3 linked regions of the Homo sapiens genome follow. The protein of the gene in region 2 purifies or fractionates together with the protein of the main gene of each other region. This does not show direct contact. Each region holds a gene or a part of one and is shown on either strand. Other genes may lie near its edges.

Region 1 (7,839 bases), on a different chromosome or scaffold from region 2:
GAGTTTTAGGTTTTACATCTAGGTCTACGATCTATGTAGAGTGAATTTTTGTATATATTGTGAAATACAAATCTAGAGTCAGAGTCGGGTGCAGTGGCTCATGCCTGTAATCCCAGCACTTTGGGAGGCCAAGGTGGGTAGATCGCCTGAGCGTCAGGATTTTGAGACCAGCCTGGCCAACATGGTGAAACCCCATCTCTACTAAAAGTACAAAAAATTAGCCGGGCGTGGTGGCAGGCACCTGTAATCCCAGCTACTTGGGAGGCTGAGGCCGGAGAATCGCTTGAACCCGGGAGGCGGAGGTTGCAGTGAGCCGAGGTTGTGCCACTGTACTCCAGCCTGAGCAACAGAGTGAGACTCCATTTCAAAAAAATACAAAGAAAAGTCTAGAGTCAGTGTTTTCCCTGCAAATGTCCAGTTTTTCAGTCTCTTTTCCCCTACTGAATTGCCTTTGCTCCTTTGTCAAAAACCACGTAGGAGTAGGAGGAGTGAGTTGTGAAATCAGGGTGTGTTGGCCCCCCAGCTTCATACATTTGCACAGGTTTCTGGCTATTCTTGGTCCCTTGTGTTTCCATGTGAATTTTAGAATCGGCCAATTTGTATAAGAAAGTGTGCTAAGATTTTGATTGACGGTATATAGAATCTACAGATCAATGTAGGAGAATTAAATTCTTAACAGTATTGAGAGTCTGGGCTCAGTGGCTCACACCTGTAATCCCAGCACTTTGGGGGGCTGAGGTGGCCTGATCGCTTGAGCCCAGGAGTTCGAGACCAGCCTAGGCAACATGGTGAAACCCCATCTCTACAAAAAATTTAAAAATTAGCCTAGTGGGGTGTTGCATGCCTGTAGTCCCAGCTACTCAGGGCCCCCACACCACAACCTGGAAGCTCTTCACACAGGAAGCTGAGCAGTTGGGGCCTGTTTGTCTCCCATCTTTCTGAGATTCACTGTCTTTCATAGCCCAGTACTCAGTGCTTCGAAAACTGTTGCTTCGTATATTTTGCCTGATTTTGTGGTTATTTCAGGCAGAAAGTTAATACAGTTCTTGTACTGTGTCTTGACTAGAAACGAGTCCCACCTGAACTCTCAGAGGTCTTTGGTTTAATAAAATATGATACCTTACAGCTAAAGCTTCTTACTACTCTTTTCCTGGAGATTTGGCTGTCTGATATCTGCTGCCTCATTATTTTTACTTAAAAAGGCGGAATTACTTTGCAACACCTTGTACACAGTGATATGTCTTATAAAACAATCACTAGATATTATGAACAATGTTTGTAGGTGCCTTAGGTGTCTGTCTTGAAACCCTGAGAACTAGGAGTGCTTACCCCAAAATGACAGTCACTGGTTCCTCCTTGGAATGAGACATCGCAAATTCCAGGGGCATCTCTGGAGGTGCTGCCCCACCAGGGGATATGTGGAATCAGTTGATTCACTTACTTGTGATCATCTCTCCACGCACAGGTGGGCTTCTGGCCTCTCACAGAGTCTGAAGCATGAGCTGCCTCAGATCTATTGGAAGCAAATGGGATAGAAATCTAAGAAAAGCAAATGTGAAATTACTGATGTCTGATCAAGCAGGCAATACATTTGACTTGGTGTTTCAAAATAAAGTCTCAGTTTTTGTATAGGTGGGGTGGTGTATACTTTGCCAAAGAATCTTATGTGAAAGGACCAATTCTCACCCAAGTTTGAAAGGTTTGGTTTCGTGTTTGGTTTTTGGTTTTGCTCACTCTCCCTCTACGTCTAAACACCTTAGGAGTCCTGTCACTTACACTTTTTGGGCCTCAGCTGGCCTGTTGTTTCTGTTTGTTACTTTGTTTTTATCATTTTCCTCCTGTAGTGTGTAGAGGAGAATGTTGTGAAGGCATGGATCTTTTCCATTGAACGACCTGAATTTCGGTCTGTAATAACTAACTCCTGAAGAAAGTGCATCTTCTGTGTCTTGTGTCTCTATGTTTTAGTCCTGCTTGTTGCTAAATGAGACAACAGAAAACTGAAGACTGCATTTCTAGAAAGGTTTCAGAGAAAGGCTGTGTTTTGATTTAGAACTGGTTTTTTTGTTTTTTGTTGCACAAAAACAAACCTCTCAGGCCCTTTAAAAAAAAAGAGAGAGAGAGGTGTGGCCTCCCTATGTTGTCCAGGCTCCTTGGGAACTCCTGGACTCAAACAGTCCTCCTGCCTTGGCCTCCCGAAGTGCTGGGATTCCAGGCGTGAGCCATTGCACCCGGCTGACATGCAAGTTCTGAGGAAAGCCAGGCTGTCTTTCTTGAGTCACGGAGTAGTTGTCTTCATGACATGTTGATACCAGGTGATAATGGTCAGTGAAAGAGAGAGGTTAGTCCTTTGTATTAGGTGGCATCCTTCCCTCACACCCAAGCTGCAGGCCCAGCGTAGGAATGGGACCTCCACAGCCACACAGGTCTCATCCTGTGTGGCTGTGAAGGTCGCTATATGACTCTGGAGGTAGCTATGTGACTATGGAGGTCTCGTCCCGTGTGGCTGTGGAGGTCGCTGTGTGACTGTGGAGGTCACGTCCCATGTGGCTGTGGACATCTTGTCTGTGTGGCTGTGGAGGTTGCTGTGTGACTATGGAGGTCTCGTCCTTTGTGGCTGTGGACGTCTTGTCTATGTGACTGTGGAGGTTGCTGTGTGACTGTGGAGGTCGCGTCCCGTGTGGCTGTGGAGGTCACTGTGTGACCATGGAAGTCGCGTTCCGTGTGGCTGTGGAGGTCGCTGTGTGACTATGGAGGTCTCTCTCGTCCGTGTGGCTATGGAGGTCTGTGTGGGAGTATGGAGGTCACATCCCGTGTGGCTGTGGAGGTCGCTGTGTGACTGTGGAGGTTGCTGTGTGACTATGGAGGTCGCTATGTGACTATGGAGGTCGCTGTGTGACTATGGAGGTCTCATCCATGTGGCTGTGGAGGTCTCTGTGACCATGGAGGTCACGTCGCATGTGGCCGTGGAGGTCGCTGTGTGACTATGGAGGTCACGTCCCATGTGGCTGTGGAGGTCGCTGTGTGACCATGGAGGTTACTGTGTGCCTATGGAGGTCGCTATGTGACTATGGAGGTTGTTGTGTGACTATGGAGGTCTCGTCCATGTGGCTGTGGAGGTCTCTTTGTGACTATGGAGGTCACGTCCCATGTGGCCGTGGAGGTCTCTGCGTGACTGTGGAGGTCACGTCCCGTGTGGCTGTGGAGATCTCTGTGTGACTATGGAGGTTTCATCCATGTGGCTCTGAAGGTCTCTGTGTGACTATGGAGGTCGCGTCCCATGTGGCTGTGGAGGTCGCTGTGTGGCTATGGAGGTCGCGTCCCGTGTGGCTGTAGAGGTCGCTGTGTGACTATGGAGGTCTCGTCTGTGTGGCTGTGGAGGTCGCTGTGTGACTATGGAGGTCGCGTCCCATGTGGCTGTGGAGGTCGCTGTGTGACTATGGAGGTCTCGTCCGTGTGGCTGTGGAGGTCGCGTGTGTGACTATGGAGGTCTCGTCCATGTGGCTGTGGCGGTCTCTGTGTGACTATGGAGGTCTCGTCTGTGTGGCTGTGGAGGTCTTTGGGTGACTATGGTGGTCACGTCCCATGGTCCCATGTGGCTGTGGAGGTCGTGTGTGACTATGGAGGTCTCGTCCACGTGGCTGTGGAGGTCTTTGTGTGACTATGGAGGTCACGTCCCATGTGGCTGTGGAGGTCGCTGTGTGACTATGGAGGTCTCATCTGTGTGGCTGTGGAGGTCTTTGTGTGACTATGGAGGTCACGTCCCATGTGGCTGTGGAGGTCTCTGTGTGACTATGGAGGTCATGTCCCACAGCTCCATGGCCTTCCTTGTTCTGTCTTCCACATCTGAGAGCAGGGATTGCCCTTATCCGCAGTGAGCATTTTGTTTAAGTAGCAGTGAGTTCACTCCAGGCAATGCTTTGACACTATAAATAGACGTGTATTTGACATTCACACACGTGTCTGTTGAGCTAATACAGACAATCATTTGATGAACCTGCTAGTTAGGAAGTAGCTGTGATGTGAGAAGAGACAGTGCTGGCTGTAGATATACACCAAATTTCCTCACTTGGCTGTTGATACAAGGAAAGCATCTTGATACTAATAGGAGTAGAATGCAAATGATACTTCTCTACCTCCGATCATTGGATTACATTCCTTTTCTCTGGGGTGAATCTTTAAAATGCTAATGGCCTGAGTGCACCAACATGAAGCACACAGTACCATCTGATTAGTTGCTTTATGCATCCAGAGAGGGTATTTCTAAATCTCAAAGTATGATTGAGTGTCAAAAATCCATTTGGGGGAGGGGCAACTCCTGTGTTGTGCTGCTTCTATAACAGCACAAAAAAGTCTTCCAGTATGTTCCTGCCAGCAAGGAGTTGGCAGGGCGGGGAGAAACAAAGGCTGTCGCCTTTCCAGTGATGAGTGCCTGTAATATGAAGCCGGGAGTCCTGACTCAGCACCTACAGCAAACCTGGGTTACCCAGGGCTTGCCACTTGTTTTGAGAGGTTCTTAAATTCTTAATTTTAAAAACAAAGTAAATTGCAGTATGACTCATATGAATAGTAAATGTGCACCAAATAGGACACATAGGAGGCAGAGTGGGTTATAAAATATTTAGTCATTTGCCACAACCAGGAAAAGATGGTTTTAAGGATATTGGTTCTTGGTCTAGGAATTAAAACATCCAGAAAATGGTCCTAAGTTACTGTTGATTTTTGCTGAAGAAAATACATTTTCTTCATGTGTTATATAAAAAACTTACTTTGTAATAATTATGTTTGTGGGATTCACTAATGTTTAACTACTGGAGCAAAACCTTTGTCGTAAAGTTCTCTTGGTTGTTTGAGGAGACAAAAGGATGGCAGATCTTTGACCAAATTATGAAGATATGGAATTCAAAGGGATGGAATTGAAGAGTTTGAGAAAGGAGTTAAAGTAAATACAGAATGTGGGTAGGAATTCCGTTTCTATAGTAAGACAAAATGTAGGGGGAAAGTTTGTATTTCTTTGTTATTATGCTGATAATAAGCTTGCTAGAAAACAGGATTATAATTAAAAACAGGATTATAATTATTCCACATCCTCTTTTGATCTTTGTAAATATGCATGTATTTTATATGGTAGTAATCACTGTATGTATTTAACTTTGGTTAATATGTAGCAGCTCTCCGATATTTAGTATTGGAATTATTAATACTTGTGTAAGTATTAGTAAAATGAATAGCTTTATAACTTTAATTTACCTTTTTTCCTAGGGGTATATTGTATCCTAATTAAATTCAGATTATTTATCTAAAGTGTTTTTATTCTGTATATCCCCACATTTTTCGAACCCCACATTGGTTCAAAACTTGTTAGAAAAACCATATTTCTGTTTATAATATTTCATATTGGAATTGAATGAGTTTAAGTTTTTGTACCTAAGATTGGAAAGGAAATTTTATTAGAACTGGTAAGAATGTACAAGCATTGTTTCTTTGAGGTGAGTAAAAATATTGTGAGAAAAAATTTTCTGCTTCAAAAAATGGTGTCAGCTGGGCACGGTGGCTCATGCCTGTAATCCCAGCACTGTGGGAGGCCGAGGCGGACAAATCACCTGAGGTCAGGCGTTTGAGACCGGCCTGGCCAACATGGCGAAACCCCTCCTCTACTGAAAATACAAAAATTAACCTGTGCGTGGTGGCAGGTGCCTATAATCCCAGCTACTCGGGAGGCTGAGGCAGGAGAATCGCTTGAACCCGGGAGGTGGAGGTTGCAGTGAGCCAAGATCCTGCCTTTGCACTCCAGCCTGGGTGACAGAGCAAGACTCCAACTCAAAAAAAAAAGATTTCTTCTTGTATTAGGGGTGTTCACAGAATAAAAAAGAAAGTTTATTAATTAAACAAACTGAAGTGAATTACACATCTAGCCTGCAGAAAAATAAATAGGAAACAATACAGTCTGGCCTGTGTCACCCAGAAAAAGCTCAGTTTGGATTGAATCACTGCCCTGGGGAGTGTGAGGGGAAGGCCCAGCCTGTTGTTCTCCTTCCTGATGGGAAGGTGGTCACTGAGGGAAAAGATTTTCTTGGTTCTCTAGCCCTGATTTCACTTTGTAATCATCAAGGTGAACTTAAACACAAACACACTCCAGTGACCCCCATCTCAGACTGAGGAATCGGAGCACCCGGAAACAGGCCTGTGAGGATCAAACCTGTTGAGAAGTCCCAAGTGACTGGGCACCATAGATGCTCAGGAGTGGTGCAGGCCAGCTGCCTGGGACCCGAGGTCCAGCAGGTGCAATGTGCCCACATTAACTGTTGTTACCTCTACCCCCATGCCAACTATGACTGGACTGCAGTGTTCCAACGAGAAGTGCCCTAAACTTAGCCATAATAAGTAATTTATTTGTAGATTCCTGAAGTACTGGGGTAGGGTGTGGGGTGCCTTTTTCTTATGATTACAGCTATGTTAACAATAGGGTTTTTTTATGAACCAATCTGTTGTTCATACTGAAGAATTGATGTAGCCCTTTTGTTTGCAGGCTGTGGAAAATCTCTGTTCTCACAAAGTCTCCCCAATGCTCTACAAGCAACTGCGTCAGGCCTGTGAAGACCACGTCCAGGCACAGATCCTTCCGTTTAGAGAATATCCTTTTTTTGGTTCATAAAGTTTCTATTCATTATCTAAGTCTTTTAAAACTGAACATTATTATGATAAAGAGCTAATGAGTATCCTTAATATTAAAACAACAGCTTTTAAAGTTCTCTTTTATTTGATAGGTTTGTAAGCGAAATTTACCATTTAAATTATTTTGCTGATTTGAATTAAAGGGAAACCGTGTTCATTTATTGGGTATGGTTGAAGTATTTAGGAAATGTTCTGAAAAATGTCTTCAAGTTTGAGTATCCTTTATTCTAATAAACACCATCTGCATTGGCTTTCTGTGATAGGCAACAAAGTCCCATCGACTTGGCGACTTATGGAGACACCCACTTATCAGCGCACAGTTGTGTCTGTCAGGAGGCCAGGCAGGATTCAGTGGATTCTATGCTCAGTCTCACGGGCAGAGTCAAGGTGTCAGCCAGGTTGGGGCCTCACCTGAGGTCTTTGCTAGCACGGGCAGGCAGTTGGCGGAAGCCAGTTCCTGTGGTAGTGGGACTGAGGGCCCTGCCTTCTGTCCCGTGTTGCTTGGTGTCACTCTCAGCTCCACATGCACAGGTCCTTGCCTCTCCTCTCACAGCACGACTCTTTTCTGCTTCTAGACCAGCAGGAGAATCTGCCTGTCTGACCTGCTGAGATAGGGCCTTATATGATGTAACCCGTAACCCAGTCAAGGAATGATGACCTTCGTATTCACAGCCTCGTTCACAGTTGCGTGTGAGGCATCCTCCACGTGGGGACAGGGCAGGAGCATCTCAGAATTCTGCTGCCACACCAGCTGTGACTCAGACGTCTACAGGGGAGTCTCTGGGCTCCTTGGCATCCTATAGAAAATCCTTTAATCTGGACTCAATCTCATTCCCCAGCCTCCTCCCAGTACTGTAGCTGTCCATGTGTCTCATTGGGTAGGAATTAGAAAGTAGAGTTTATAATTGCAGAAAATCTACTTGTGGCTGTACTTTTCTAGGCCTCCGTTTCTTCATGTGTAAAATTAGGTGGTTTGTGTTTGCTTATTTCTAAGTGTTCTTCTAGTTCAAGGAAACTTCTGCTCCCCCATCTCCCTGATCTTGGGAAACTAAACCATTCTGAGTTCATTGGAAGGGTCCTCAGGGAATCTGCAGCAGTTGGTGCTGCTGAAGTTGAAGCACGTGACAGGGAAGCTGAAATGCAGGGTGAGAGGTCTCTGTTTAGACA
Region 2 (8,434 bases):
TGTTACAGACATGTGGGTTTAGTAATTATTATTCTCACACTTTCTAAAATGTTTTTAGCTTTTTAAAAAGCATTTTGCTCATTTTTTTATTTCCTTCTGTTTGTTTCATTCTATTTATTAAATTCTCCCATTTATCCCAATTGTTTGGGAAGTCTCATGGCTCTTTATGGTTCTCTTCTGAGAGGAATATGAAATACTTCAATTGATTTGTTCCTTATTGCAAATAAGCCAAAGCCATGGCTCATTTACCATTACCGGGTTTGTTTACCATTTCACAGGCACACTTGAGGCCTCAGCTTTCAAGGGCATGTTTTCAGCCTGTTACAAACCATGCTTGGCCTTCCTTCTCTAAAGTCTGCTCCTTCCTAACCAGGAAACAGGGCAGGAATGGAATTTTCTTCCCATTCCAGTTTCTCTTTAGCTGCTTGTGTCCAGAAGTTGATATGGCATAGCTAAAATTAATACCTGAATTGACCCAGTTCACCTTCTGTTTTAGAAACAACAACAACAAAAAAATTGGCTAAAAAGTAAAGGCCTGGGTATTTTTAGAAAGAGCAATAATTAGTGTAAAATGTCACAGAAATATAATACGTTTAGATTCATGTCAGACAAAAGTTATTTCCAGGAAGCTTCTCAAAGACAAGAAAAGGGATGTTGGAGATATTGGGAAAAAGTATAGTGAAATTGGTAAGAATAAATAAGCTGCAGTGAAGCCTATCTGAAGCATTTGGAATATGACTTTGCAAGAGGCTCAGAATAGAATAGAGTAGGAATCTATCCCTGTTTATCTTTTTACCTCCCTATCCGTCTTGTATAGATATTGGAGTAAAAAGATGAGGAATGTTGCCTCTTGTTCCTCTCTCTGTGACTCACAACAGTGATGCTAAAGTGAGGAAGTGGCTTCAGACATGAACAGAGGTGGGGGATGGGAAAAACGGTCAGTATTAAGAGGCATGTGGCATGTGTGAAGATTTAGGAATTTAAAACACACACACACATGGTGGAAGCTGGTAAGCCTTGCCTTTTATACACAGTTCTGAATTTTAACTCTGAGGAGAGGAGTTTTTTGGGGTATAATTCTCTGTCGTAAGAGGCTGCCCTATGTGTTGTAGGATGTTTAGCAGCATCTCCAGCCTCAACCCACTCGATGCCAGTAGTATCCAGTTGTGACAGCTAAAAATGTCTCCAGATATTGCCAACAGTTGTCCCAGGATGAGAACCACTGCTGCAAAGGTCACACGATGTGGTTGGGCAGGGTGAGTATGGGACCTTGAGCTGGGGTAAGACCTGAGGGGCAGAGTTGTGAGAGTTATGGGGAACGTTTCCAATTTCTTCTATGGAGAAATGGGAAGAGATGGTGGATGAAGGAAATGGAGTGGCATGGTGGGAATGGAGTATGTAAATTCCTAAAAGAGAAGGAAAGAATCCTAAAGGCTGAAATAATTTTTTAAGACAGTAGATAAAAAGTCATGTAGCATTTAAGGAGACTTATTTTTTCTAGAAGGTTGATTTATATGTTTATTGAGAGGGAAGGAAAGTTAGTTAATCAGAAAAGAAGGGGGAGGTGGGGATGGTAAATGAGTTAAAAAAAAAAAAAAGTTAAATAATGAATAGGACTGGCCAGGCGTGGTGGCTCATGCCTGTAATCCCAGCACTTTGGGAGGCCGAGGCAGGCGGATCACAAGGTCAGGAGTTCGAGACCAGTGTGTCCAATATGGTGAAACCCCATCTCTATTAAAAATACAAAAATTAGCCTGGCATGGTAGCGGGAGCCTGTAGTCCCAGCTACTCGGGAGGCTGAGGCAGGAGAATCACTTGAACCCAGGAAGCAGAGGTTACAATGAGCCGAGATCGCACGACTGCACTCCAGCCTGAGCAACAGAGCAAGACACACACACACACAAAAAAAAACACAAAACACAAAAAACGAATAGGACCTACTATTTGATAGCACAACGGGGTGATCATGGTCAATAGTAACTTAATTGTATGTTTTAAAATAACTTAAAGAGTGTAATTGGATTGTTTGTAACTCAAAGGATAAATGGTTAAGGGAATGGATACCCCATTTACCCTGATGTGCTTATTTCACATTACATGCCTGTATCAAAACATCTCGTGTACCCCATAAATATATACACCTACTATATATCCACGGGAATTAAAAATTGAAAAAAAGAAGTGGAAATAGATTGAAAGCTCTCCCTGTAGAGTAGAAGTTGGATAGATTTTGCAGAAATAACCTTAATCCCTTATTCCTCTCAGTGAAGGAGCCTATGAAATAAAGGAGAATTAAACATGTAGTTCTTATAATTTTCATTCCTTCATTCACTTATCTATATCCTATGTCCCATGTACTATATTATACACTAGACAGTAAGGATAGAAAGATGGATAAGAAACAATCCCTGTCTAAAGATGTCCACAGTATACTAGGGTAGACAAAGATGTGTAATCAGTTTGATTGAGAATCTCACCTCAAGAGGCATAAGCTTGAAAGTCTCATCATTTCTACACTTGGTATTTTGTCAGATTTCATTGCTTCAAAGTATCAGCCTCCTTAGTTATTAAAACTTTCATTCTAGGTATTAAGATTAGGTCCTACTGATTTAAAATATTAGTCTCATATTTATTTCAAAAACTTCCTCCATGCCTTCCAGAGCAGACTAGACCCGTAGTTCCAACTTTCTTTATACACACCCCTTTTTTTCCATGTGCCTGCTCTTCCGATGGTGGGGTCAGGAGGTTTAAGAAGGAAAACAGGCAATGCCTTAAATGTCTGACTGCCGCCATGTTGCTATCTGCTTTCTGTAGGTCATTGTTAGAATATATGGGGTTCCTAACAGCCCCACTGATAACTCAGTATCAAGCAGTCCTCTATGCTTTGATAGCCCTTTGCAAGACTTCTGCATCTGTCAGCTGACTTCCATTTGGCAGTGGTGAAACACATTCTTCTGATACATAGAAATCCCTTGTCCCATGTTATGTTCCATGGCAAGTGTGTGGGCCTCAATCTCCTGTGCTCTCTGTGATCCCAGCTCTGGGGCCTGTAGATTCCGACAGGATCCATAGTCCAGATATCACCGGATTTCTCTGTAGTCCCTACCAACTCTCCCCAGTCCTCCAAAATTCCTGGAAATTCATAGCGTAAGGGGAGTCAGCAAGCTTTGTGGCAAAGGAAACATCCAGATGGGGACTGGAGATATCAGCCTCCTCTTGAAGACACCCCAAAACTTTACTAGTATCATGTAATAGGTACTAATGTCCTGAACAGAACATGAAAGACACTAACCATTAATGAAACAAATGGACAATTTGGATAAATTCATAATTTATTTACTTATTTTTCTTTCTTTTTGAGACAGGGTCTTATTCTGTCTCCCAGCTGGGCTGGAGTGCAGTGGGGTGATCACTGCAGCCTCAACTTTCAGGGCTCAGGTGATTTTCCCTCCAAGACTCCTAGGCTCAAGTGATTTTCCCTCCCAGTCTCCTGAGTAGCTGGGTCTACAGGTGTGCACCATACCCCGCTAATTTTTGTATTTTATTTATTTATTTATTTTTTGAGACAGAGTCTTGCTCTGTTGCCCAGGCTAGAATGCAGTGGCGCGATCTCGGCTCACTGCAAGCTCCGCCTCCCGGGTTCACGCCATTCTCTTGCCTCAGCCTCCAGAGTAGCTGGGTCTACAGGCGCCCGCCACGATGCCCGGCTAATTTTTTTAATTGTTGGTAGAGACGGGGTTTCACCGTGTTAGCCGGGATGGTCTCAATCTCTTGACCTCGTGATCCGCCTGCCTGCGCCTCCCAAAGTGCTGGGATTACAGGCGTGAGCCACTGCGCCCGGCCTAATCTTTGTATTTTTTTAGAGACAAAGTTTCACCATGCCGCCCAGGCTGGTCTCTAACTGTATTTTAAAAATACAGGCGGCCGGGCGCAGTGGCTCACGCTTGTAATCCCGGAACTTTAGGAGGCTGAGGCGGGCCGATCATGAGGTCAGCAGATCGAGACCATCTGGCTAACACGGTGAAACCCTGTCTCTACTAAAAATACAAAAAAAATTAGCCAGGCGTGGTGGCGGGCGCCTGTAGTCCCAGCCACTTGGGAGGCTGAGGCAGGAGAATGGCGTGAACGTGGGAGGCAGAGCTTGCAGTGAACCGAGATCGCGCCACTGTACTCCAGCCTGGCCGACAGAGCGAGACTCCGTCTTAAAATAAAAAATAAAAAAATAAGAAATACAGGCAGGGCGCGTGGGCTCATGCTTGTAATCCCAGCACTTTGGGAGGCTGAGGCGGACAGGCTGCTTGAGCTCAAGAGTTCCAGACTAGCATCGGCAAAGCAGGGAGACCCCATCTTTACAAAAAAAGTAGCCTGGCATGGTGTTGTGAGCCCATAGTCCCAGCTAAGTAGGGCAGAGGTAGGAGAATCACTTGAGCCCAGGAGTTCCAGGCTGCAGTGAGCCGTGGTCGTGCCACTGGACTCCAGCCTGGGTGAAAGAGCAAGACCCTGTCTCAAAAAGAGAAAGGAAAAAATTTAACATCAAGAACTTCCTTTCATCAAGACACCACTGAGAGAATACGACAACCCACAGAGTAGGAAAAGAGATTTGTAATACACATCTGTAACAATGGACTTCCTCCTAGAATAGAGAGGATAAAAAGTAGCAACACTTCCGCTTGCACCCGGACGGAACTTCCTGTCACGGAAAAGAACATCCTGTCACGGAGAAGAACATCCTGCAGAATTTCCTGTCACGAGGAACATTCCGCAGGAGGAAATGGAGGCTGAAAGGCTGCGACTCCTCGAGGAAGAGGCCAAGCTGAAAAAGGTAGCCAGAATGGGATTTAATGCATCTTCCATGCTCCGAAAAAGCCAGCTAGGTTTCCTCAACGTCACCAGTTACTCCCGTTTAGCCAACGAGCTGCGTGTGAGCTGCATGGAGCGGAAAAAGGTCCAAATTCGGAGCTTGGATCCCTCCTCTTTGGCGAGCGACCGATTTAACTTCATTCTGGCGAGTACCAACAGCGACCAGCTCTTCGTAGTGAACCAGGTCGAAGTCGAAGGCTCCAAGTACGGCATCATCAGCCTGCGAACTCTGAAGATCCCTTCGTTCCACGTGTACGTGCTCAGAAACCTCTACGTCCCCAACCGGAAGGTGAAGTCCCTGTGCTGGGCCTCGCTGAACCAGTTGGACTCTCACGTTCTGCTGTGCTTCGAGGGAATCACAGATGCTCCAAGCTGTGCAGTGCTGCTCCCAGCGTCGCGGTTCTTAAGTGTTCACACAAGAGTTAACCAGCCTGGCATGCTCTGCAGTTTCCAGATCCCAGAGGCCTGGTCCTGTGCGTGGTCCCTCAACACCCGGGCATATCACTGCTTTAGTGCAGGCTTGTCTCAGCAGGTCCTGTTGACCAGCGTGGCGACGGGACACCAGCAGTCATTTGATACCAGCAGTGATGTCTTGGCCCAGCAGTTTGCTAGTACGGCTCCTTTGCTGTTTAATGGCTGTCGCTCCGGGGAGATCTTTGCCATTGATCTGCGTTGTAGAAATCGAGGCAAGGGGTGGAGGGCCACTCGCCTGTTCCATGACTCAGCAGTGACCTCTGTGCAAATCCTCCAAGAAGAGCAATGCCTGATGGCATCAGACATGACTGGAAAGATCAAGCTGTGGGATCTGAGGGCCACTAAATGTGTAAGGCAGTACGAAGGTCACGTGAATGAGTCCGCCTATCTGCCCCTGCATGTGCACGAGGAAGAGGGAATCGTGGTGGCAGTGGGCCAGGACTGCTACACGAGAATCTGGAGCCTCCATGATGCCCACCTGCTCAGAACCATCCCTTCCCCGTACTCTGCCTCCGAGGACGACATTCCCAGCGTGGCCTTCGCTTCTCGGCTCGGGGGCATCCGGGGAGCAGCACCAGGGCTGCTCATGGCTGTCCGGCAGGACCTTTATTGTTTCCCCTTCAGCTAATTCTGCAGGTGGCAGCGCGGCCGAATGTGGATTTGACTTAAGGAAGTTAAGAGTATCTTATTACCGTTTCTGTGAGAGCATTTTAAGAGACGTGTTGTATATAGATCGCATCCATCCGGCTGCCAGGGGTAAGGTGTTAAGAGTTTTATGTGGAGACGTTCTTGTAAAGTTATTTCAGTTAAACTGTGGACTTAACTTGAAAGTCCTTTTCATAAAAGGTACCTGTTTCCTCTTGTTGAATGCCTTAGAACAGTTAACCACCTCCCCAACCCTTTTTTTTTTTAAATAATTAAGACTTTTCTAAGGACTGAAGATTGGCAAAAACTAAAATAAATTAAAGCAGCTTCTTTCACTAGTAGCCCTTTAGAGAAGCATAATGATGGTACTGGTAAGACTGTTTGACTAATCATACAGGGTCCCAGGCATCTGCGCTTGAGGAAGCCAGTGGGAGTGGAGACAAGGGAGAGGTAATTTCTCAGAGTCTCTACAGAAATATTTAAGGCTGGAGTTTGGAATCATTAAATTTGGCCTTCTCAAACTCAATAGCAGATCTCTTAAGGTTCTCCTTTTATTGTTATCATCCATAGGCATTGGAAGGAAAGATGGATCTTTTTAAATACTAGAAGTTTTAAACAGTCCTTGATGTGCTTTTGTTGAGGTACCTTTCAGAATGTAAGGTACAGCAGCTCCGGTTTCTATTATGGTGACTTGAAGTTCAGATTCAAGGAATTGGCTTTGACTTTTTGTAATCTAGGAGCAGCAGTTTGTGAGAGATTTATTAAAAATGTTAAAGAGCCTGTTTTTCTACTAAGCAAGGAAGAAAAAAAACGTGTAATAAGGTTAGTTGCTACTTCTTAATAGCCAAAGCCTGGAAATGATCTGAATTTCGAAAATGCTAAAATTCGTGATATAATCATACAATCGGATACTGCATAATAATAGAAAATAAGGCACACTTGCTATGTGAAACAGTATGGACCAATCTCAACATGTTGACTGAAATTAGGTAGAAATGAGTACAAACTGTATGATTCAATTCTAAAGTTCAAAAGCAGTAAAAACTTGTCTATGGTGATTAAAGGTAGAGTAGTACGTACCTCTGTAGAAAGAAAGGATTTTTTTTTCTTTTTCTTTTTAGGATGTTTGAGAAGTGACATGGGGAAGCTTTAGGAATGCTGAGTTTTCTTTATCTTGACACTTGATACATACGTAATTCATATATCTATATGCTTCACGTTTTTATAGTTTACTGTATATATGTTATTCCTCAAAAAATAAAAATAAGCAATTAGGACACTATTGTAGTTAGGCAAGGGACAATGATGCCTTGGACCTGCATGTGTGAGAAGTAGAAATGATCAGAAATGATTGCATTGGAAGATCATTCGAAGGTAGTATTATTGATAAGGCTTGCTGATGAGAGTAAACTAGAAAGTGAAAGAAAAAAGGATGGCAGCTTTTTTTTTTTTTTTTTTGAGACGGAGTCTCCTTCTGTCGCCCAGGCTGGAGTGCAGTGGCGCGATCTCGGCTCACTGCAAGCTCTGAGGATGGCAGCTTTTTTGTTAACTTTAGAACTGGTAGATGATGGTGTCGTTTACTAACCTGGGGAGGATGAGGAGAAAAAACTTTAGGTGAAGGGAATGATGCTGAGTTTTAGACATCTACTAAACCTCCAATTGGAGATACAAAGTATTCTGCAGATCAGGGGTCATGTCATGGCTGGTAATACAAATTTGGTGACTTCAATACATAGAATTAAAATAGATGGGATAGATGTGCTTTATATGACATAGATGAGGTTAATGTAATTACATATTGATAGAAGATGAGTAGATCAATAGAGAAGATATGGGAGTATGGTTAGGCACAGATTTTTGGAATCCTTTCAGTCAGTTTTTTATACTAACTTGATATGTGACATGAGAAATTGTGTAAGCTTTACTTGCTGTTGTTTCTTCAGTGTAAAATGTCTTAGATAATAAAACTAAATGATAAAGTAGATACAGGGTTAAAGGATATGTATCTTGTCCCTTTTACATTGTAAGCATTCAAAATAAAACAAAACAATTAATGAAGAAAAGACATTGCAATCATTCAGTAAGAACTAGCTGCAGACATATATATGTATATATATATATGTCTGATACTGATATGTCATTTATTTGGCAATTGACAAAAAATGACTACATAACTTGATAAACTGTTTATCCTCATTTGCAAAGAAAACAAATGCAAAAAAAAAATCAGTAAGAAAAACACACCTAAAAGAAAGGGAGGCAATAGTCTTGAATAGGAGAAAAAGAGGAGATCCAAATGGCTAATATACATTTGAAAAGGCATCCAACTTCTTTTATTGTCAAGGAAATGCAAATTAAAACCACAATGCCACACCACTTTCACTATAATGGTTAAAATAAAATAGATCAGGTGGAGTGACGTTGGGAATTAAAAGAGAAGCAAATGTTGGTGCAG
Region 3 (7,839 bases), on a different chromosome or scaffold from region 2:
TTATTTTAAGGATGGTCAGTGTTTGCATGTAATTTCATAACAGGGAACTTCTTAAATAGGTTATTATGATATGAAATGTATGCAGTTTTAAGATCTCAGTGTGTGTTTTGATCTTCTTATAGTATATGCAGAATCAGAATGTTCCGGGAAATATTGAGTTAACTGTGAATATCCTGACAATGGGCTATTGGCCGACATATGTGCCTATGGAAGTTCATTTACCACCAGAGGTAAGAGTTACTGTTTAGAACTGAGTTATAGGCATAGAAATCATAGCATTTCCATTTTGCTTGTCATTTAAAAATAGATACTTAGAAAAAAATAGAGACCCAGGGTCTCGCTGTATTGCTCAGGCTGGTCTTGAACTCTTGGGCTCAAGTGATCCCCCCCGCCTCAGCCTTCCGAAGTGCTGGGATTACAGGTGTAAGTCACCAGGCTTGGCATGGATACTTTTAAAAGTGTATGTCAGTAAGCGCACCAACACCAAATACCAACTGCTTTAATGTTTTACTTTTGTACTTAGAAGTCCAGTTAAGCACATAGCTAATAATGCCAAATTTCTGGGTTCAGGGTCAATTTCCCTGGCTCTTCTTCCATCTTCCCAGGTTATACCCCTCACTCTACCTAGCTATTAAGAATTCTTGCACATATTTCACCCATAGGTGGGATTGCTAAATGATGGGTCCTTGATTAAATCTATCCTGACTCCTGGTAAACTGTCTAGTCCAGGACTGAAGCCCATAAAAGGGATTAAGGCTAGACAGATAGATATTGAGAATCCTCCATGGAGATGATTATGAAGGCCCAGGGAGTAGATTTCTCTCAAAGAGGAAGAAAAAACAGCAGAGGCAGAACTTTAGAAAAGGCTCACATTTGGCAGATGGTAGAAAGAGGAACCTGTGAAGGAAACCAATGCAGAAGCAACAGTGAAATAAAGGAAGCAGCATAGTGCAGAGGCACAAAAGCTGCTGCAGGTGAATGTTTCAAAAGAGGGGATGATTAAATGTTCAGAGAGAGCAAAAGGTATAAATCCTAATAAATCCCATTTGATTTGGTGGTTGGGAGATCATTGTTTTTCATCAAAGTGATTGGTGGACCTACTGGATATAGTCTTAAAATTTTCCAGAAACTATATCACATGAGGTAAGTATAAAAATGGTAAATGTGGTATTGGATACAGAGCTTAAATAAAGCCTTATTTTATTTACTTTAGATGGTAAAACTTCAGGAGATTTTCAAGACATTTTACCTAGGCAAACATAGTGGCAGGAAACTTCAGTGGCAGTCAACCCTAGGACACTGTGTGTTAAAAGCAGAATTTAAAGAGGTAAGTGGATGTTCCCAAAACTTTTAGTTTTCATCTTTATCTTTAATGTTTAGGTCATCCTTCTTAACTGAAAGTTTAGGCTATTGTTTTTTGTTTTCTTCTTTTTTTTTTTTTTTTTTTTTTTTGAGACAGAGTCTCACTCTGTCACCAGAGTGGAGTGCAGTGGCGCTATCTTGGCTCACCGCAACCTCTGCCTCCTGGGTTCAGGTGATTCTCCTGCCTCAGCCTCCCGAGTGGCTGGGACTACAGGCGTGCGCCACCATACCCAGCTAATTTTTTTTGTATTTTTAGTGGAGACGGGGTTTCACCATGTTGGCCAGGATGGTCTCTGTCTCTTGACCTTGTGATCCACGCGCCTCGGCCTCCTAAAGTGCTGGGATTACAGGTGTGAACCACCGCATCTGGCCAGTTTAAGCTGTTGTTTTATAATTGTATCCTAGATATCCGCATGATGACAGTGATAGTTTGTCATAGCTTTATGTATTTTTAAGTAATTTTAGGTGTGTGGTCTTTCCACGATTGATTTGGCCCTTCTGCAAAATGAAAAGCAGTGAACTTTCCCCCTACCCTTTCCTCACCTGTGGATGAAAACTGTACACTGCCACTTCCTATTTTTATTTATTTGTTTATTTTTAGAGATAGGGTCCCACTCTGTCACCCAGGCAGGAGTACAGTGGCACAATCATAGTTCACTGTAACCTCAAACTCATGGGCTCAAGCTATCCCCCTGCCTCCGCTTCCTAAAGTGCTGGGATTACAGGCATGAGCAACTACACTTAGTCTAACACTGCCACTTCTTGACAGAAATCTTGTTGCTGGGAGCTACGAATAGAGTGGGAGTTAAGGGAAACAGTGTGCAATATCTAATCTCAAAAAACTTTAGCTTTTCATGACTAATCTGAGCCAAACAAATCAAAAATACATTTGAAATAGTGATTTCTTGCTGCTTGTGATGAATATCTAGAATGACACATAAGGCTGATTAATTTTCATTACTGTATTCTATTTATAAGGCTTAAAAAAAAACTGTTAAAAGGTCAGCTAATCCTTCCCCCTATTTTAGGTAGGGTCACACCTAAACCTCACACTGAAATACTGTATTACCACGTCAAGTGGCTTTGCTGGATAATGCTAATCATGTTTCTAAATCCACTAATTGAAAAATGCTTTTCCTATAAGAGATGATTAATTTTTCATGTGTTTTTAAAAAAGTGATGACTAAACACTTTTATTTCTTCAACAGGGTAAAAAGGAACTCCAGGTCTCTCTTTTTCAAACACTGGTGCTGCTAATGTTTAATGAGGGAGAGGAGTTCAGTTTAGAAGAGATCAAGCAGGCAACTGGAATAGGTTTGTAGCAAACATTAATTGTTCACTATGTGCACACCACTATGTTAAGAGGTCTGGGGGACATATTTATAGGAATAATTCCTTGCCTCAGAACTGTTTTGAGTTTTTTTTTTCTTTTTTTTTAATGAGACAGGGTCTCACTCTGTCACCCAGGCTGGGGTCCAGTGGTACAATCATGGCTCAGGCTCAAGTGATTCTCCTGCCTCAGCCTGCCAAGCAGATGGGACTACAAGTGCATGCCACCGTGCCTGGCTAATTTTTAAAATTTTTTTTTGTAGAGACAGGGTCTCACTATGTTGCTTAGCCTGGTCTCAAACTCCTGGGCTCAAGGGGTCTTCCTGCCTCAGCCTCCCTAAGTACTGCAATTACAGGCATGAGCCCCTGCAGCCAGCCAGAACTCTTTTTTTTTCCCCTCAAGACGGAATCTTGCTCTGTCACCCAGGCTGGAGTGCAGTGGCGCGATCTCGGCTCACTGCAACCTCTGCCTCCTGTGTTCAAGCAATTCTCCTGCCTCTGCCTCCCGAGTAGCTGGGATTACAGGCGCCTGCCACCACACCTGGCTAATGTTTGTATTTTTAGTAGAGACGGGGTTTCACCATGTTGGCCAGGCTGGTCTCGAACTCCTGACCTCGTGATCCGCCTGCCTCGGCCTACCAAAGTGCTGGGATTACAGGTGTGAGCCACCGCGCCTGGCCAGAACTCTTTATATAACCATAGGGAAAGGGGGAAATGACACTTGAAATAATGTCAAAACCCATAAGTACTGGCTTGTGGTACTGACTATAAGTGTGGTAAGAGTGCAACAAAGCAAGAGATCACCGTGGACTGGCACAATTGGGAAAGCTGTCATGAAGCAAGTGGCATTTGAGCTGGGCCTTCAAGTTTTGGTCAGGGAGAAGGCATATACAGCAAGGGGAAATATTTTGAGATGAGGTTGGGAGGTAGGAATGGGCACAGTATAGGCCCATGAAGAGCTTAATTGTAGCATAGAATCATGAAGAATCATGAAGAGCTTAATTGTAACATAGAATAGTGAGTTAAAAAATTAGGTAAGATGAGTAGGGCCTGATTGTGGAGAACCTGATAAGTCTAGCAAATGAAACCTACACTGTAGTGTCTCAACTATGTGGCATGGTGGAAGTAATTATTTGGACCACTTACTGAAATCAATCTACAGGGCAACTGGAAGGATCAAGGGATTCCAGTTTAGATGCTATTGGGATGATTCAGGCATAAAGTAGAAGGGACTTAGACTAGAATGAGACCATGAAAATGGAGAAAACTCATCTCTGCGGAAGCAGCGGCTAGCTATTATGTTGAGGATGAAGGAGAAGGAAAAGTTAAAAGATGATTTTAGGGTTTCCCAACTGAGAAGGTTAGTGGTATCACCACTGACAATTGGAAAGAGGACACAGTTATATGGAGATGATGAATCAAATTTTGGACGTAACTACAGTTGATAGTAAAACAGCCAGGCGGAATTGCCCTTTAAACGTGCAACTGGAGAGAAGTGAAATGTCATTTTGGAATATTTGGTAGTTGCCCACATGGTATGATAATTGACGTCTTTAAAAGAGGACTAGGGGCCGGGCGTGGTGGCTCACATCTGTAATCCCAGCACTTTGGGAGGCCAAGGCGGGTGGATCACTTGAGCTCAGGAGTTTGAGACCAGCCTGGGCAACATGGTGAAACCCCGCCTCTATTTTTTTTAAAAAAGAAGAGGACTAGGAAAAAAGCCATTGGCTAGAACAAAGAAAAGTTGTTGGTGACCTTTGGGAAAAAATGAAATAGTTTTAATAGGGGGATGGAGTGGAAGCTAGATTGAGGTAGAATGTCGTAGTTGTTCATGCTGGTAACAAATAACTAAACCTCTGTTTCTTCTTCAGAGGATGGAGAGTTAAGGAGAACACTGCAGTCATTAGCCTGTGGCAAAGCTAGAGTTCTGGCGAAAAATCCAAAGGGCAAAGACATTGAAGATGGTGACAAGTTCATTTGTAATGATGATTTCAAACATAAACTTTTCAGGATAAAGATCAATCAAATCCAGATGAAAGAAACGGTATTTCTTTCACTTTCTCTTAGTCCTAACACACTGGAATTATACATGTTAATAATCAAAATATATAAAGATTTTTATACCTGTAATACTGCCAATACCATTAATATTTTTTGTGTCTATGTCCAGCTAAATATGTTTCCTGATTTGATTTTGGGTGTTTGGGAGAGTGGTTGTACAGGATTGAGATGATACTCAACATAGTTTCATATCTTACTTTGTTTATTTAGTATTCAATCTTTAGAATTTTTCCATGCCATTAAATAGCTTCGAAAAATGGCAGATGGCAGTGTAATATTTTTACATGGCTCTTATAGTTTGTTCAACCACTGTTCATTTTGGGGCAATTAAATTCATGACTTATTAGTATTATAAATAAGATTGCAAGAAACCTCTTTGAAACTAAATTTTAATCTCTGATATATGATAAATTTGTGGAAGTAGATTTTTTTGGGTTAAAGGGTATGAACATTTTAGGAGTCTTAGTACATAATGTCATATTGTGTTCCGGAAAGGCTGGACCAGTTTATACTCTGTCCAGCAGCATATGAGAGCCTGTCTTACTATGTCCCCCAGCACTAAAGATTATATTTTCTTTTGCCAACTTGCTTGGTGAAAAATCTGAATTGATTTATTCACTATTTATTTGATTAACAGTGAAGGTGGGCCAGGTACGGTGGTTCACACCTGTAATCCCAGTACCTTGGGAGGCCGAGGCGGGCAGATCACCTGAGGTCAGGAGTTCAAAACCAGCTTGGCCAACATGGCGATACCCTGTCTCTACTAAAAATACAAAAATCAGCTGGGCGTGGTGGTGCGTGCTTGTAGTCCCAGCTACTTGGGAGGCTGAGGCATGAGAATCACCTGAACCCGGGATGTGGAGGTTGCAGTGAGCTGAGATCGCGCCACTGCACTGCAGCCTGGGTGACAGTGAGACTCTGTTTAAAAAAAAGAAAAAAAAAACAAAAACAGGGAAGGTGAATATTTTGTTTGTTTTTGCCATTTGAATTTGTAAGAGACTTCCAACTGCAGCATCCTGAAACTGATGGTTTCAGTTCCAATAAGGTTTAATGCAATATTTGAAAAAAAAAAAATTTTTTTTTTGAGGTGGAGTCTCACTCTGTCACCCAGGCTGGAGTCAGTGGCACGATCTTGGCTCACTGCAGCCTCCGCCTTCCAGGTTCAAGCGATTATCCTGCCTCAGCCTCCTGAGTAGCTGGGACTACATGCGTGAGCGACCATGCCCGGCTAATTTTTGTATTTTAAGTAGAGATGGGTTTTCACCATATTGACCAGGCAGGTCTTGAACTCCTGACCTCATGATCCGCCCATCTCGGCCTCCCAAAGTGCTGGAATTATAGGTGTGAGCCACTGAGCCCGACTGAAAAAATTTTAATGTAGGACAGCGACCAGTATCTCCAAACAAGTTCCTGTCATTTTCACATACACATCAAAGACAGGATATTTTCTTAAAGGATTACCATGTCCTTACTTTTAAAACATTTATGCTGTACCAGGAAGAAACTGCTGCAAAAAGGCCAAACTGTTTTTTTGGTTTAATTACTAAAGATGAACATTTTTACTTTAGCATCAAGATTGGTAAACCGCCTCCTAAATACCTACATTTCTGTAAGTCTTGAAGGATTGTAAGCACTAATGGCATGCATGTCTGATTTATATATTACAAAATAAAAATTAATTTTCAAAGAGGTTGACTCTTAACTAGTTTGCTTAGCCAGTTAATACCATGCCTTGAGTCAGAGATCAGACAGAGTCACCTTATAGACAAGCTATTGTCATAGAGAAATCTGGTTAACAATCCATTGAAACTGATACACACATTTAGAAGATATATCAAAGACAGAGTAAAAAAACAAAATGGTAAATTCCACATCAGCTATCTCTACTTCTAGAAAAGCAATTCAAAGATGATGTTTTTCTATTAACTAATATTAGCATTACTTCATTGGTATAGGGCAATATAATCAGAACAGAAAGGAGTTATGTTTGTAGGATTTTTCTCTGTCAGCATCTATATTTATAAGACCCCATTTAGATAATTCAGTACCTTTAAAGCAATAACAATGTCATGTCCCTAAAATGCACAATTTATGTAAATAGTCAGGTTTTGCTTCTGGTATAATTCCTAGGTTTAAAACTTTTTTGTTAGGTTGAAGAACAAGCAAGCACTACAGAAAGAGTATTTCAAGACAGACAGTATCAAATTGATGCTGCAATTGTTCGAATTATGAAGATGAGAAAGACACTTAGCCACAATCTCCTTGTTTCAGAAGTGTACAACCAGTTGAAATTTCCAGTAAAGGTAGGTACTTCTGTGTTTTCCTATTGAGCGTGTTATAAATAAAAGAAAGTACATTAGATTTTCAGACACAAATCTTGCAAACATAAAGCGTCATGACCATTTAGAGAGAGAAAAGTTTTAATTTCCCATGTTGATGCATATGATTTCCAAAAAAAAAAACTTTGTTGGCATATGTGGGCAGCAGTGACAAAAGGGAAAAATAACAGAAAAGCCTGGATACCTGAAAGTTTAACTGCTAAATGAGTGTTTGAAATTTTCAAGTTTATTCACTATATTTCTTTTGAACTTCTTGGTTGGTTATTTACTTCTTTTCCTCTTGAAATACCATGGTATTTATTGAAATACCATGGTATTTGACAGATTTAGTTATTGTGGATTGAGTTAAATCTCCTGTTTAGTTAGCTTATATAAGAGATCATCTGTTAAAAACCATACAGATAACTAGTCATGATTAAGCATCTTTTTGAAAAGTGTAGTGATAGTTCTGGTAAACTGAAATTGGTCATTAAATGGAAACGTTCCATTGTGAATGACCAATAATAAAGTCACTTAATGTGATGTTGTACTGGCCTTTTTTCCAAGTTTTAGGAGGTAGATAGCCAAACCCTTGGATGATAAACATTGATAGAGTTTGAATAGACTGCTAGCTATTAGGGTTCTTATGAGCTTTGGACTTTCATAAATCACTTCACCATGCTGATCTTGTTTCCTCTTTTGTAAAACTGAGATAATAATAGTACTTACCTTGTAGGATTATTGTGAGGTTTAAGTGAGATCATGAATG

Evidence for each region. The genes of interacting proteins can lie anywhere in the genome.
Region 1: the proteins of DCAF4L1 (region 2) and CUL4A purify together in Homo sapiens (affinity purification with mass spectrometry; 5 studies listed by BioGRID and IntAct, with this or other methods). This does not show direct contact.
Region 3: the proteins of DCAF4L1 (region 2) and CUL4B purify together in Homo sapiens (affinity purification with mass spectrometry; 4 studies listed by BioGRID and IntAct, with this or other methods). This does not show direct contact.

The regions. Positions count from the first base shown.
Region 1 is NC_000013.11:113,212,419-113,220,257, forward strand, and holds part of CUL4A (cullin-4A), read left to right. Parts: intron 1-6,526; coding exon 6,527-6,630; intron 6,631-7,839. UniProt on the Homo sapiens protein: Core component of multiple cullin-RING-based E3 ubiquitin-protein ligase complexes which mediate the ubiquitination of target proteins. As a scaffold protein may contribute to catalysis through positioning of the substrate and the ubiquitin-conjugating enzyme.
Region 2 is NC_000004.12:41,977,022-41,985,455, forward strand, and holds the start of DCAF4L1 (DDB1- and CUL4-associated factor 4-like protein 1), read left to right. Parts: upstream 1-4,734; 5' UTR 4,735-4,771; coding exon 4,772-5,962; 3' UTR 5,963-8,434.
Region 3 is NC_000023.11:120,529,318-120,537,156, reverse strand, and holds part of CUL4B (cullin-4B), read left to right. Parts: intron 1-122; coding exon 123-230; intron 231-1,213; coding exon 1,214-1,327; intron 1,328-2,570; coding exon 2,571-2,676; intron 2,677-4,562; coding exon 4,563-4,735; intron 4,736-6,902; coding exon 6,903-7,055; intron 7,056-7,839.